3 linked regions of the Homo sapiens genome follow. The protein of the gene in region 2 interacts with the protein of the main gene of each other region in a pairwise test. Each region holds a gene or a part of one and is shown on either strand. Other genes may lie near its edges.

What was found. The genes of interacting proteins can lie anywhere in the genome.
Region 1: the proteins of LARP4 (region 2) and PAX5 interact in a two-hybrid assay, tested with the Homo sapiens proteins (one large-scale study listed by BioGRID).
Region 3: the proteins of LARP4 (region 2) and EXOSC7 interact in a two-hybrid assay, tested with the Homo sapiens proteins (one large-scale study listed by BioGRID).

What each region holds. Positions count from the first base shown.
Region 1 is NC_000009.12:36,964,070-36,969,284, forward strand, and holds part of PAX5 (paired box protein Pax-5), read right to left. Parts: intron 2,656-5,215; coding exon 2,480-2,655; intron 1-2,479. UniProt on the Homo sapiens protein: Transcription factor that plays an essential role in commitment of lymphoid progenitors to the B-lymphocyte lineage. Fulfills a dual role by repressing B-lineage inappropriate genes and simultaneously activating B-lineage-specific genes.
Region 2 is NC_000012.12:50,455,397-50,460,611, forward strand, and holds part of LARP4 (la-related protein 4), read left to right. Parts: exon of another isoform or gene 1-1,032; intron 1,033-1,174; exon of another isoform or gene 1,175-1,390; intron 1,391-5,215. UniProt on the Homo sapiens protein: RNA binding protein that binds to the poly-A tract of mRNA molecules. Associates with the 40S ribosomal subunit and with polysomes. Plays a role in the regulation of mRNA translation.
Region 3 is NC_000003.12:44,978,228-44,983,442, reverse strand, and holds part of EXOSC7 (exosome complex component RRP42), read right to left. Parts: intron 1-5,215. UniProt on the Homo sapiens protein: Non-catalytic component of the RNA exosome complex which has 3'->5' exoribonuclease activity and participates in a multitude of cellular RNA processing and degradation events.

The DNA.
Region 1 (5,215 bases), on a different chromosome or scaffold from region 2:
GGAGATCAAGACCATCCCGGCTAACACGGCGAAACCCTGCCCCTACTAAAAAATAGAAAAAATTAGCCGGGCATGGTGGCGGGTGCCTGTAGTCCGTCCTACTCGGGAGGCTGAGGCAGGAGAAAGGCGCGAACCCGGGAGGTGGAGCTTGCAGTGAGCCGAGATCGCGCCACTGCACTCCAGCCTGGGCGACACAACAAGATTCTGTCTCAAAAAAAGAAAAAAGATAAACCTTCTGGCTGGGCGCAGTGGCTCACACCTATAATCCCAGCACTTTGGGAGGCCAAGGAGGGTGGATCACCTGAGGTCCGGAGTCCAAGACTAAGCCTGGCCAACATGGTGAAACCCCATCTCTACTAAAAATACAAAAAAATTAGCCGGGCGTGGTGGCAGGCACCTGTAATCCCAGCTACTCAGGAGGCTGAGGCAGGAGAATCACTTGAACCTAGGAGGTGGAGGTTGCAGTGAGCTAGGATCACACTACTGCACTCCAACCTGGGCAACAAGAGCAAAACTCCAGCTCACAAAAAAAAAAAAAAAAAGAAGATAAACTTTCTTCCACATTCTGGAGGGAAGGACAGGCCTCATCCAGGAAGGTTTCCTGATCGAGGCCCCTCTCACTCTCCTCCCGTGTCAGAGAAAATGTGCCTTCTGCCGTCTCTCAGAAGGGCTCTGAGCAGAGCAGAGAGGGTGCTTGTGATAGAAACAGACTCTCCTCCCTGAAGTCCAAGATCTAGAGTGTGTGGGGGCGGCTATGCCCAGCACCATAACCATGTCCTACCCAACAGAGGTGTCACTCGACTTGTAAGAGAAAGACTAAAATCCTCAACCCAGTCTACAAGACCAGGCCCACCTCCCCAGCATCATCGCCCGCCCATCCCTGAGCCACAACCACACCGGCTCTCTCCATTCCTCGTTCCTGCCGCCTTCCTCTCAACTCAGGGCCTTTGCACTTGCTGTCCCCTCTGCCAGGCACTTTCCCTCCACCCCCACACCCCTTCTCCTTGCTCCACTCAACCCCTTCAGGCTCAGCATAAATACCTTTCCCCCAGGAGGCCACTGAGGCCTCCAGGCTGGCTCAGCCTTTCCTTTAGGCTCTCAGAGAACCTCAGACACCTCCTCCTTAGCACCAAGCGCACCTGTAACCCATGACCCTTTAGGTAATTCTTCTATTGGGATTCTTCCACAAGTCTGTAGGCTCCCTGAGGGGAGGTCCAAGACCATCTTGTTCACTGATGTGACCCAGTGCATGGCTCCAGGCCTTGCACAAAGTAAACACTCATCATATTTGTTATGTGAATGCGTCTTGCAGCGTGGCCTTAGGCAAGTTGCTCTGCCTCTCTGGACCTTGGTTTTACCATCTGAAAACAAAGTGGCTAGAAGGTCTGTAAGAGCTCTCATAGAAACTGCTCAGACACAGACAGACTGTCATAGATGGGTGGCCCCAGAGGCCCTGCTCTTCCCTCACCACACGGTTCTCTCCAGCACCTCGCCTCTCCATGGGAGCTGTGCAGGGAGGCTACACTGCTTGGACTGACTTTTTGGAGAAGATTCAGAAGCATCCTCTAATTAGCATTTAGAGGAAACTCAGCGCAGCCAGTTCTCACCACTAGTACCAGCGAGGAAAGTGCCGAGGAAAGTTGTTGTCTGTAGGGTCTCTCTGGTTGGCCCACCAGGTGGGAGCTCTTGGCAGTCCAGAGCCATGTCTAGCCTGCAAGGTTACCTGTCAAGGCCCTGGCACACACTGGGTGTCAGGAAATAGTCTTATGAACTGAATCTGATAGTCCAGAGATCTTAGTCAGGCCTCAAGAGCCTCTCACTGGGCCGAGCCTCGTGATCTCATCTCTATAGCCACAGGTAGTGACTACTCTGCCCAGGGTATAGCAGACAGCCGGTCAGCCAGGGCTGGTCCTCCTGCTTTCTCCCTCTCTTGCAAATAACCCAGGTGGGAGTTTGTGCAATGAGACATTTCTTTATCTCCAGAATTTTGGATTCAGTCACTAAGAGAATGACAAGGCGACCTGGTGAGAGGGCAGACAGTGGGATACCCACCCGCTCCGTCATTCCATTGTTCACGGCCGGTGAGCCCCCAGGCCGCGTGCTGGTTACATATTTCCACCATCACCCTGACTGACAAGATACTGACCCAAGACCACCTTACGTGGCCCGAAAGATCATTACACCCTTCTGTCCAAAGAGCCCTTGGAAAGGACACCAGAGCAGCCAGAGAAGTCACCCACCCCCTGGCTGGCCAGCGACAGAGGCACCAGGGCAAGAAGCCACTGGAGGCCCAGACAAGCCCTCCCGACCTTATAGGATGTAGCGACTGCCCAAGTTTGGCCAAGAACACTGAAGAGACCTCTCTGAGCAGAACCTGGTGTGCCCTCACCCACACCCCGCCAGATGCCTCTGCCTTCAGGAACCTGGCTGGGCCGGTGTGGCGGTGGCAGGTGTGGTGGGCGTGCATCACGAGGCGTACCTGCTCGGGCTTGATGGGCTCTGTGGTGGTGAAGATGTCTGAGTAGTGCTGCCTCTCAAACACGCGGTCCAGCACCTCCAGCTGCTGCTGTGTGAACAAGTCTCCCCGCATCTGCTTCCGGAGGAAGTCTCTGCCCGGAAGCGAGTGGCCGTTCGGCACCGGAGACTCCTGAATACCTTTGATGAGCAGGAGAGAGGAAGGGTGAGTGGAGGTTATACACGTTGCTAAAGAAAGACAGGTCAGACCCTGAGACTATGAAGAGGACCTGACCCCAACTCCCTCCCTGACCAGAGAATACACCAGCAGGGGCTCAGGTAAGGCACTGCCTTTCCCAAGGTCACCTGCTGGTAAGTTCAGAGTCAGCCTCCCGCAGCCATGTGCCAGGGACTGTGCAAAGCCCTTTTGACAGGCATCATGTCATCTAATCCTCATGATGACCCTCAAGGTAGGTTATTTTCCCCACTTTGCAGATGAGAAGACTGAGACCTAGAGAGATTTATTGGTTTGCCTGAGGATTCGAGCTTGGGCTGACCCACAGGCTTAGTCATCCGGTGCTCCTGCCCCTCCTGTCCTAAAGACCTTCCCGGGAGGTACAGTTTTTCCCAGAGTTGAGGTCCTTACCCTGGACATTTGCTACCACATCATGTGACCGGTCAGTGAAACACTGTGCTAGGAAGACTGTAGGAAAACGGGACTCTCATACAATTCTGGTGGAAGTGGTAACAACACCTGTGCTAGACAAGTCGACAAATCTATCAAAGCCACAAATGCACATTCCCTTTGATATAGCGATTGCACTTCTGGGAATTTATTTTACAGCTCAACTTACACATGTGAGAAGTGATGTATGTACAAGGTTCTTGTAGCAAAAGACTGGAAACAACCCAAGAGTTTATTTGTGGGGGGTTGGTTAACTCAGCCAGGCATACTTGCATAATGGAAAACTGTGCAGCAGCTGAAAAGGAATGAGGCTTCCTTCTGTGAATTGATATGAAAAGATCTTCAAGATACATTGTTATGTTAAAAAATAAAAAACAAGGTACAGCACAGCATGTATAATGTACAACCTTTTGTGTAAAAAAGGAAGAAAATAAGACGATGTGCAATATAAATCTCTCCAAAGGATATATGAGAAACATTTACAGTGGTTGCTCATTCAGGGAGGTAGGAAGTGAGTGAGTGGAGGTGAGGGGGAGAGACTTTTCATGGCATGTTTTTCTTTGGTTTGGTTTGGTTTCAGAAGTTTGAATGTACTGCTTATTACAAAATGTAAATTAACTAAGTATAAGATTAAATTCCCTCTGTGTTCTGTATTGTTAGCTATTCACACTGTAACAGTCTCTGGTGATGATGCTTACATGTCAAAAGAAATATTACGAATTATCAATAAAGAAACAAATGGGATGAAATATCTTCTGTTGAGTCTCAAGCTTGAACTGTTCAAAATAAAATCAAGCACAGAGGGCAAATGTTTCCCGTGAGGAAATGGCCTCGGGGGTACATCATTCCCCGGGGCTCTCTGGGACCATATTGCTCACGCAAGGCTGACCAGAGGCTTCTTGAAACCCAGGCCCAGAGGTGAGGCATCTGCCTTTGCAGTCAGGAAGCCCTGGGGAAAACCAGCGTGGGTCTGCTCTCATGCTGAAAGGTGCCCTTACTCAAGGCCTTGTCTGACCCCTGCCCCCACCAGTGCACTGCTGCCCTAGACTAGACTTCATCCGTCACGTCAAGCTCCCACCCATGTGAGGAATGAGGCCAGACTAAAGACCATGAAGCAGTGAGATGTGGTGTCACCAAGACTCAGTCAGAAGTCAATGCTTCCTCAACTGTACTTATCTGGGGACAACTGCAATGCAGGGCTGACATTTGAACAAAGATAGCAGCTTTGAGTTTTGGCCTTTCGGATCCCTCGTAGAAGTCAACAGGCTCAGAGGACCCAGCATCCTCTATAGGAAGGGCCTTCGGAGGCAGCTCATGAGCCCTCTGAGAAAATGGATTCCCCACCAATTTTGACCCAAGAGGATACTGTAGGCTGGGCCACAGCCTGAGTGACCAGATACCCCCACATGTGGGCCAAGGCAGAAGTTGGTCTCTCTGACCAACGTTCCCCAGCCTGAAGCCTAGGCCCCTCCTCTGGCAGCCCATGACCTTGGCCTTCCACAAGACAGGTGCCTGCTCCTGCCCACAGGACATCATCCTCAGAGACCCTTCTCCCATCATGGCCCATCCCCATGGGGACCATTCCCACAAGGTCACCTAGACTAGCAGGTATGGGAGCTCACGGCCCAGTCTATCTGCCCAGCAGTGTTCTTCCATTGGTCAGCACCCACCAAATGATCCTTTTCTCAAAGGTTCTATGCACACACACACATGCACACACACATGCACACGCACACGCACACCAGGAAAGATGGCTCAGTTTTTCCTACTCAGCTGTGGCTCTGCCCAGTCATCCTGGTCCCAGTCACTCTTGCTAAAGCATGACGTGGGCCTTGGTCCCCAGGACACCACCAAGTTCCTCCTTGTCAGAAGGGGCCCATCCACTTTCAAGAGCTTCTCCCTCCACCAGCTTCAGTTATACTTCCCAGCCCTGACCCTGCCAGCCGGGCCCAAAACTCAGTGAAACCTCCTTCCTGTCAGCCATCTCCTAACAACTCCCGCTGAGGCCTGGCTCTGTCCCCAGCAGGGCAGTGCCCAGCTCCTCCGGCCCACCCAGGCTGCTCCATCAGATCCCCT
Region 2 (5,215 bases):
TGACATATAGTCATTTCGATTTATTTAATAGTTTCACATTTATTACTTCTCGTTTGCTGTTTTGTGAGACTCTTGGTTTTTGAGGGTTTTTCCTAATGGTTTATTTTCAGTGACAGTCTTTTGCCAGATTCGATTCTTCTAATTATTTCTTTTGGAAAGGAGACCATCTGGAGTATGTTTTTCCAAGATGACTTCTAGGAACTTAGTCCTTTTTTGACAGGTTTTTCTGAAACTTGTTTTACTGGAGAAATGAGCCCCAACAGAATGAAAAAATATTCTTCTCACTGGAAACATTGTGTACTACTCTTTAATAGTCAGAGTTTTTGGACTATTCTTGACAGACACAATTGGTTAAAGCAATTGAAGATCATTTTCAAGTGTTAGAAAAATTTTACTACTAAACATAAACACAGGCTGAGGTGGGTGGATCATCTGAGCTCAGGAGTTCAAGAGCAGCCTGGGCAATATGACGAAACATCATCTCTACCAAAAATACAAAAATTAGCTGGGCGTGGTGGTGTAGTGCATGCCTGAAGTCCCAACTACTCAGGAGGCTGAGGAACGAGAATTGCTTGAGCCTGAGAAGCACAGGTTGCAGTGAGCCGAGATCATACCACTGCACTCCAGCCTGGGTGACGGTGAGACTCTGTTATTCCCTGCAGCCACGCCCTCTCACCCCTCCCCGCTCCCCCCTCCAAAAAATAAAGGTACTGATATTTGCAGTTGCTTGACTCTGAAATACTTTACTTGGCTCCATGGTTATTTCTTTATTGTTACCTTTTATCCGTTGCATCTTTTTGGTGACAGCCAGGAATGACAGTCAAGTTATCTTTACTTATAAGGAAGTATACCTATGGTTTTGAAAATACATGGTGTGTTTAGTACATTTTTGCATGTTACTTAAAACCACTTGTGTACAGTTCTTTTCCATATATTTGACCAATACAGGTTGGTAATTTTTAATTACAGAAATAATTAGTGAATACTTTTTCTAAAAATGCAAATAAAGACCTTCTGGACCAGCAACCCAAATCCTTGTTTCCTTCTTGCTTCTAAAAAGTGACTACTTCTAAAAAGTGACTACTGCCAGGCATTTATTATTATTATTAATGTTAACAGCTAAGGACAAAGTCTTTTTTAGAGAGCCTTTTGCAATTTTTATATTAACCTGTGACAGCCCAGTGATGATCACTATTCCTACTTAGAGAGAATAGGACTAACTTTCAGAAATCCAGGCATTTTTCTACCTTTCATACTATCTTTCTTTCACTTTACTTCTCTTTTCTGTCTTTTATCACTTCTTTCTTTCTTCATTCTTTCTCTCTTTTGCCTGGATCGAGATTGTTAAGTCCCTCTCAGTGAAGGGTAAGATTATGAGATCTGAGGGCTGTATAAATGTAGTAAGTTGTCCCTTAAGCATATTGAAATGTAGTGTGAAAGTTGGATGAAGGACATTTTCTAAACATATGCAAATACCATATCTATCATATCAGTTCATTTTCAAGATGTAACAGGTAATATAAATTTTTTTTTTTGAGACGGAGTCGTGCTCTGTCACCGGGCTGTAGTGTAGTGGTGCAGTCTCTGCTTACTGCAACCTCTGCTTCCCGAGTTCAAGCAATTCTCTGGCCTCAGCCTTCTGAGTAGCTGGGACTACAGGCATGTGCTAGCTAATTGTTGTATTTTTAGTAGAGACGGGGTTTCATCATGTTGGCCAGGATGGTCTCAATCTCTTGACCTCGTGATCCACCCAGCTTGGCCTCCCAAAGTCCTGGGATTACAGGCATGAGCCACCATACCCGGCCTTTTTTTTTTTTTTTTTTTTTAAAGACGGAGTTTTGCTCTTGTTGTCCAGGCTGGAGTGCAATGGCGGGATCTCGGCTCACTGCAACGTCCGTCTCCCGGGTTCAAGCGATACTCCTGCCTTAGCCTTCCAATTAGCTGAGATTACAGACGCATGCCACCACGCCCAGCTAATTTTTTGTATTTTAGTAGAAACTGGGTTTCACCATGTTGGCCAGGCTGGTCTCGAACTCCTGACCTCAGGTGATCTACCCGCCTTGGCCTCCCAGAGTGCTGGCATTATAGGTGTGAGCCACCGCATCTGGCCTAACTATTTTTAAAATTACTTTTTATAGCCAGTGGGGTGGCTCATGCCTATATTCCCCACACATTGAGAAGCCAAGGCAGGCAGATCACTTGATCTCATGAGTTGGAGACCAACCTAGGCAACAGAGTGAAACCTCGTCTCTACTGACAATATAAAAATTAGCCAGGCATACTGGTGTGCACCTGTAGTCCCTGCTACTTGGGAGACTGAGGTGGGAGGATAGCTTGAGCCCAGGAGGCAGAGGTTGTAATGAGCTGAGATCGCACCACCTCGCTCCAGCCTGGGTGACACAGCCAGACCTTTCTCAAAAAAAAAAAAAATTACTTTTTGTTAAGTGACATACTATTTTCATTGCTATTTAAGAAATCTAGTTTGTAATATAAAGTAATTCTATGGCAAAGTGTCACTTTATGTGAAACTCAACCCAACTTTTTTTTTTTTTTTTAAGACAGTGTTTTGCCCTGTCACCCAGGCTGTAGTGCAGTAACATGATCATGGCTCACTGTAGTTTTGACCTCCCAGGCCCAATCAATTCTCCACCTCAGCCTTCCTAGTAGCTGGGACTACAGGCGCATACCACCATGCCTAGCTAAGTTTTTGTATTTTTTTTTTTGTAAAGACAGGGTTTTGCCATGTTGTGCAGGCTGGTCTCAAACTCCTGGGCTCCAATGATCCTCCCACCTCAGCCTCTTAAAGTGCTGGGGTTACAGATATGAGCCACTGAGCCCACTGCGCCCAGCCTGATAATTTTATCTTTGTTTTTGTTTGTTTGTTTTTGTTTTTTGTTTGTTTTTGTATTTTTAGTTAGAGACAGAGGGTTTCACCATGTTGGCCAGGGTGGTCTTGATCTCTTGACCTCGTGATGCACCCGCCTTGGCCTCCCAAAGTGCTGGGATTACAGGTGTGAGCCACCACACCCAGCTACTTTAAGTTTTAATAATGGTAATTTTTTATGGTCTGTAAAGAATAAAACAGGACAACTAGAGATGCTGTGGGAATTTACGTTTAATTGGTGGGGTTATAATTATTCAAGAGGTTTTAAATCCTTATTCCTAGAGTCAGGAATTGGCAACATGTGATTTATATTGTTGGTTTATAACTATGAAAATAGATTACAAAAACTGAGATATATAAACTGCAAATAATGGGCCAAACATAAATCTCACTCTTCTTAATCTGTAGATCCAAGATCCTCAGTTGCTTGAGATTTTAGGTGTTTTTGCTACTGATTAAACTACATTCTTTTTATATTAGTCAACCTTAGCTTCATCTGTTGTAAGCTTTTAGGAAGTTGGGTGCTTATACCCATCATCCAAGATAAAAACTCCCTTTGTTAAAAGCAGATTGGTTGGTTTAACCACATTGCATACCTTAATTCATGCAGTCATGCCATGCTATTGGGTGCATTGGTATTTTCCTAGTTTGCTGTCCTACATATGGATCTTTTGATAAATCTCATTTGGTGATGGATGTTTAGTAAGATGCTAGGTTTTGTTTGTTTTGTTTTTTGAGACGGAGTTTTGTTTTTGTTGCCCAGGCTGGAGTGCAATGGTGTGATCTTGGCTCCCTGCAAACTCCACCTCCTGGGTTCAAGAGATTCTCCTGCCTCAGCCTCCTGAATAGCTGGGATTACAGGTGTTTGCCACCATGCCAGGCTAATTTTTGTATTTTTAGTAGAGATGGGGATTCACCATGTTAGCCAGGCTGGTCTAGAACTCCTGACCTCAGGTGATCTGCCCGTCTCCACTTCCCAAAGTTCTGGGATTACAGGCGTGAGCCACCATGCCCGGCTGAGGCTAGGATTTTAATTATATTCCAATATTTCTTACTCTCTTCATTATTACTCCCCTAAACAGCCTTTTTAGGCATTTTCCTCCTAGTTTCTGCCTGTGAAAATTTACTACTACAGATTATTGTATGTCTGTATGTATGTAATGTATGTATCTGTGCTTTATACATAAAATGATTACTTTTTGCCCTTCCTTCGCCCCCGTTTTTACTCCCATTAGCGTGGTTTTGCTTCCATTAAGAATGCATAGCTGGGCCTGGTGGCTCACACCTGTAATCCCAGCACTCTGGGAGGCCGAGGTGAGCAGATCACCAGGTCAGGAGATCGAGACCATCGTGGCCAACATGGTGAAACCCCATCTCTACTAAAAATACAAAAATTATCTAGGTGTGGTGGCACGTGCCTATAGTCCCAGCTACTCGGGAGGCTGAGGCAGGAGAATCTCTTGAACCCGGGAGGCGGAGGTTGCAGTGACCTGAGATCGCGCCATTGCACTCCAGCCTGGCGACAGAGCAAGACTCCGTATCAAAAAAAAAAAAAAAAAAAAAAAAGGGTGTTATAGGCCAGGTGTGATGGCTCATGCCTGTAATCCCGACACTTTGGGAGGCCAAGGTGGGCGGTTCACGAGGTCAAGAGTTCAAGACCAGCCTGGCCAACATGGCAAAACCCTGTCTCTACTGAAAATACAAAATTAGCCGGGTGTGGTGGCATATGCCTGTAGTCCAGCTACTTGGGAGGCTGAGGCAGGAGAATCGCTTGCATCTGGGAGGCAGAGGTTGCAGTGAGCCGAGATTGCACCACTGCGCTCCAGCCCGGGCAACAGAGCAAGACTCCATCTCACCAAAAAAAAAAAAAAGAAGAAGAAGAATGCATTGCATAGACTCATAAGCTTAAAACCTGGCTGATTTAAACATGTCGAGAGTGCCTCCAGTGACATTAGCTAAAATCCTAATTCTGAGTATTAAGGTAGAAGTAAGTTTCTTTCAAAGAACTTTGGATTTTCCCCCGTCTCTCCAAACACAACTTAAAATATATGTATATTATTGTCTTAGAGATAGGGTTTTCTCTGATGCCTGTGCATGAATTCAGTTGTGCAATCATAGCTCGCTGCAGCCTCAAACTCCTGGGCCCAAGCAGTCTTCTGCCTCAGCCTTCCAAGTAGCTGGGCATATTATAGGTGCATACCACTGCACATTTTAATTTTTTTTTGCAGTGATGGGGTCTTGCTGTGTTGCCCCAGCTGGTGTCGAACCCCAGATCTCAAACAATCCTCCTGCCTCAGCCTCCCAAAGTGCTGAGATTACAGGCGTGAGCCA
Region 3 (5,215 bases), on a different chromosome or scaffold from region 2:
TGTTTCTTCATCTAGAAAGCAGGGATAACCCCGACCTTACAGAGTTACAAGAGAACAGAAACGTCATAAAGCATTTAAAGGAGTCCTTCAGTGTAACACATAGGAGTCCCCCCAAAGCAGTTCCCTTCCCCTGCTTCTGGGGGCATGCATTAACTCACTGCATCCTCAAAAACAACCCTGAGAGAGGTTACAGATAAGAATGGAGGCACCTAAGTTTCAATCTCCTGTTTGTGACAGAGTGGAAGGACATTTAAGCACAGACCTACTTTCCCTCACACCCAGGAAGCCCAGTCCTATTACTTCTTAATAGAAACTGACAAGTTGGCGCTACCAATCTGACACATCTGGAAGGACTTTAGACTCAAAGTGGTCCTCTGAGGTTATGTTAACCCCTCATTAACTTGCTTTGACTTGTCTAATACTCCAGATTCCTAAAGGAGAAGTGAGACTAAATTCCTTCCCCTACTAGAAGGTGACTGCCCCCCGCCCTTAGGAAAGGGGCCACATTTGGTCCAGCTTTGCAGGCTCGGGCCCATCACACAGCAGGCAAAAGTAGGTGTTGATCCTTGTTTGACTTTCCAACCCTGTTGAGTAGCCAGGCATTCCTCTGAAAGGATATGGCTCCATAACTCTGCATCCTGCAGTGTCTGGGCATAAGGCTTTCTGTGCCATGGGTCTGTAAACAGAAAGGGCAGAGAGCTAAAAATCAAGAGTCCTGAGGGCTGGCTCCAATTCTGTCATGGCCAGACTGAGCAACCGAATACTGACTGCTCAATCTCATAGTTGAAAACCAGGCTGAGGCCCTGATCTCCCTCTTCCATGCTATACCCCTAAACAATGCTTATGATGAAAGCAAGATCCACAGAAAAGAAATGGAAGCCATCAGCTGGGCTACAACTCCCTTCAACAGCCAAGAACATACAATAAAATGGCTTTCACAGGGTTCCAAGAGCCCTGTGGTAGGGTTCGTCAATTGCCATGGCCAGGTCTGAACCTATGAGGGCCAGTTTAATGTCCAGGTCATAGCCATAGCACTCAGTAGGCTGAACCTGGGAAAGCTTTATTGTGCCTAAAGCCCTGTAAAGGCCACATAACAGTCACCATCCATCCCCAACAGCCAGGACCAGGGGTAGGTGCCTGAACCAAAGGCATATAATCCAAAGGGTGACCAACTCTTTTTGGCGTGAAATACTACCAGACCAAACTGATTCTCTCATTGCAATCTGGTCTCTGATCTGAGAAACACTTGAGAGAAGAAAGGAGTTAAAGAGGAGCTGACAGGTCATGATATGGAGGAGCCCAGAGAGGCCACACGAAAGTAAAGGTATTGGGCAGAGGCAGATTCTACAAAGAAGGGAAGCTGGACAGCAAGTGGCTGCAGAGAAGGGATAAATCTTGGCAGAGAAAAGCAGAGATGTCACTAGAGATAAAGACAGACAGCCACACAGGCCATGAGATAATCCACGGAGCCCATGAGAGGCGGTACCTCAGAGCTGTCTGGGGACTTTCCAGCTCTTGCCACAGATCCCCCTTCTCTTTTTTCTTTTTCTTTCTTTTAAGAGACAGAGTATCTCTCTGTCACCCAGGCTGGAGTGAAATCTCCAACTCCTGGGCTCAAGCGATCCTCTGGCCTCAGCCTCCCAAGCAGCTAGGCCTACAGGCACACACCACCACACACCTAATTTTTTTTAGAGATAGGGTGTTGCTATGTTGCCCAGACTGGATGCCAACTCCTGGCCTCTGGTGATCCTCCCACCTCAGCCTCCCAAAGGGCTGGGATTACAGGTGTGAGCCACTGCACCTGGCCTATCCCTTTTCTTGAGATAATTGAAAAATCCCGATTCCTTCAAATCAAAAGAGGTTTAATTCTCAGGAGCCACAGGCTGAATCTTTAATGAGGTCACTATGAAGGCTGGGGATCTAGTGTGGATGGTTTAAGACAAAGTCACACTTCTGATGGAAAAACAAACTTGAAAGGGAGCCAGCATTTTTTCTGTGTTAACCACAGCCCAAGTGCTTGACATCTCTTATCTCATCATTCCTCATAACCCCATTCTACTTCCAGGTGCATAAGTCCCCATTTTACACAAGGGAAGCAGGTTCAGTTATGCAAGTAAAACCACTTATTGTAAATGGTGAAGGTGCCTGCTCAGTCTGACTCCAAAGCCTCATTCAAAAAGAGGCAGGAAACCATATGACTTCAGCAGGAGAGAGCAGAGATTTCTTTATCTCTGGTCAGTGGCTTACCCATGGGCCAATGTCTGGTGGCTGCCCCCAAATTTCCCAACACTTTATGATAATGTCCATTCTCAGGCCCCAGCCCCAGAGAGTCTGATTCAGAATGTTGGGGTAAAGCCTCAGAATCTGTATTTTGTAGGTGAGTAAAATGCACTTCAAGGCTTCAGAATCCCTGGGCTAAGAGGGAGGTTAGCAATGGCTTCTCATGGATGAGGAAAACACACATCTAGCCCAGTAAGCCAGAAAAGAGGATAAATCCTAGATTCTAAAAATTCTGAAGTCTGCTCCAAGTTCTGCATGGTATGGGCAGAGTAAATCGTTTATGATACTAGTAAGACAAAAGCTATACAAAGAAATGCAATATAGGGTTCTAAAGGAACTTATACTCAATGTGGGAAAAATGCAACCAAAACAATACAGCAGTATATGCCATATACTATTTAAGCTCTAGAAAAACTGGGGAGTGGGAGGTGTCAATTAGAACTTTCTCTTTCCCTTCCAGTTTCCCCACAAGCTTTTAGAGAAAGGGGGAAAGAAAAGGAGGTAGAGGAAGCAAAGATTCTCTCCTGCCTTGATCTCTGGATCCCTACTGAGGAAATGGAAGAAATGACTTTCACTGCAGCAGGAAGGTGGCCTCAGAGTCAAGTATGGGCTTTGCAATCAGACAGGTCTGGATTTAAATCCCAGTGCCACCACTCAATTACTGTGTCACCTTGACAAGCGACTCAACCTGCCCGAGCTCAGTTCCTCATCTATAGAGATAACATTTACCTTCAGAACTGTTGTAAATATTCAATGAAATAAAAATTATAATATGTACCTAATAAGAATGGGATATAGCCTTCAAAGACTGAAAGAGAACCTAACAGAAACCAATCAAATTATTTATCAAAATACCGATTTAATCCACCTTTTTGATTCTCTGTTCTCCCCTGGGAGAGGGGATCTGTTCACCAGGTTGACTCAAATTGTATCACCTAGACTCCCTTTGCTGGCTTCTGGTTGGGTTTGTCCAGTGGAAGATACCAGATCAGAGGGTGCCCCTCACCCCCAATCTAGTGGCCACATTTCTGATAGTGCCTGCATCTATCGAAGACTATGACTTATGTTGGGCAGCCCTTCCTCCACAGTTCCAGCTATCACTGAAATGTGGTAATACTGTTTCCTCCCCTGGCCCCTTTGGAATAGGGGCAGTAGCCACTCCCAGTAGTTGTCTTGGGGCTCCTCAACATCTCTTATTGGTTCCCTGAAACCCCCCCCATACTGCTCTAGAGTCCCATCATAAAAGTCTCCTGAACTACCTGAAGAGGGTTCCATTTTCTGCCAATAACTAAAATGATCCACCCTCCCTTCTCACAAACTGACTTCTCCCAAGTGTGACACATCCTCTAGTGGCCATGTTTGAGCCTAATTATTCTGTCCATCCTTTCCCTCAACCCCCTAAAAGAACTAGAGTTTCTTTCTCTTGGAAACATGAGTTCAGAACTGAACGAGAAGGAATGGTCTCTTTTACAGAGGAACTGGGAAGGAACCACATTTTTTCTACCACTGGCCCAAGAAATAGAAAACCAATCTGTAGGGAGACAAAAACAAAGCAAAGAGGGGGAAAAAAAAAACCAGCAGAGATTAGGATTCCTGGAGAAACACTTGCAGCCTTGTAATCCATACTGTTTTGCTTGAGCCGATGTGTTGGTTACCATTACTAGCAACTGAATCCTCAACACATCGTGAGGTTAATTTCAACTGCTTCTAACTATCACCAAAACAAGATGAAATATTCCCTGAAATAGTAAAAGAACCAAAGGCTGAAGGGAAAGTGACATCAGAAGCTGAAATGGACGTTACTGGACCAAAGGTGAAAAGTAAAACACAAAATGACTAGGACTATACAAGCAACAGGAGTTCAGGCAGGCACTGCTTAAGGTGCACTGCCGGCACTCTATAACCAACGCAACAAAAGTTTAGGAGATTTCAGAACTGAATCAGTTGAGATTCCATGGTAGGCTCATTCACCTGCATCCTGACCTTTATTTGGATGGTGTAAATTGTGTTTTGCTCCTCTATACATATGGCATATTTTGGGCCAACATTAATAAGCCCTTATGAAGACGTTGATTTGAAGCCCATTACTCTGCATGGCTCTGTGATACACAGAGCTGAGCATTTACCAACAACTGTGCCCAAATATGTCCATGGTACTGGTGAGAGGGAGGTTTAATTTAAAAAATAAAAACACCATCCAACTCATTCCCCCTTTAAAGCTTACATCACCCATTCAATGCTACTAAGAACCTACCAAGTGCTAGACACTGGCTATGCCTTAAGGGTCCCCCATACAGACAAGTCAACAGGCTATTGCCTTCCAAGATCCATGATGAGCGAATGACTGAACCTCTAAGACCTCTAGGATCGTGCTTCTGGCCACCTCTGCAAGCTGATCTTCCACCATTTCCCCCAGCCCACCCCTTGGGCTCCACATGTCCTCCACCTGAGGATTTACAGACTCACCACCCCTTCCTTCTGGAACACTGGTGCCTACTTAATTCTCAGTCATGCTGAGAACTCAGTTCAAATGCTATTTCCTTAGGGAAGCCTCCTCTGACCTCCCAGTCTAGATCGTGTCCGTTTTTTCCTTCATAGCATTCAGTACAATTTTATATATAAACACTCAAGTACATTTATAGTTTCTGCATCTTCCTTCTAGCATGAGAGCTATATAAGGACAGGTTCCTTCCTAGCCCCTGAGTCTAGCTCAGTTCTGTGTTGAATGAATGAATACTGAGTCCTGAAGATACAGAGGAGGAATCCTTGACATGGATTTAGGGGAGCAATTCCACCTCCTTAGGGAAGCCTTCAGAGCATTACAAGTCCCTGGAATTCTTTTTATTTATTAAAAAAAAATTATTTCTTTAGAGATGGGCTCTCACTGTGTTGCCCAAGCTGGTCTCAAACTCCTAGGCTCAAGCAATCCTCCCAT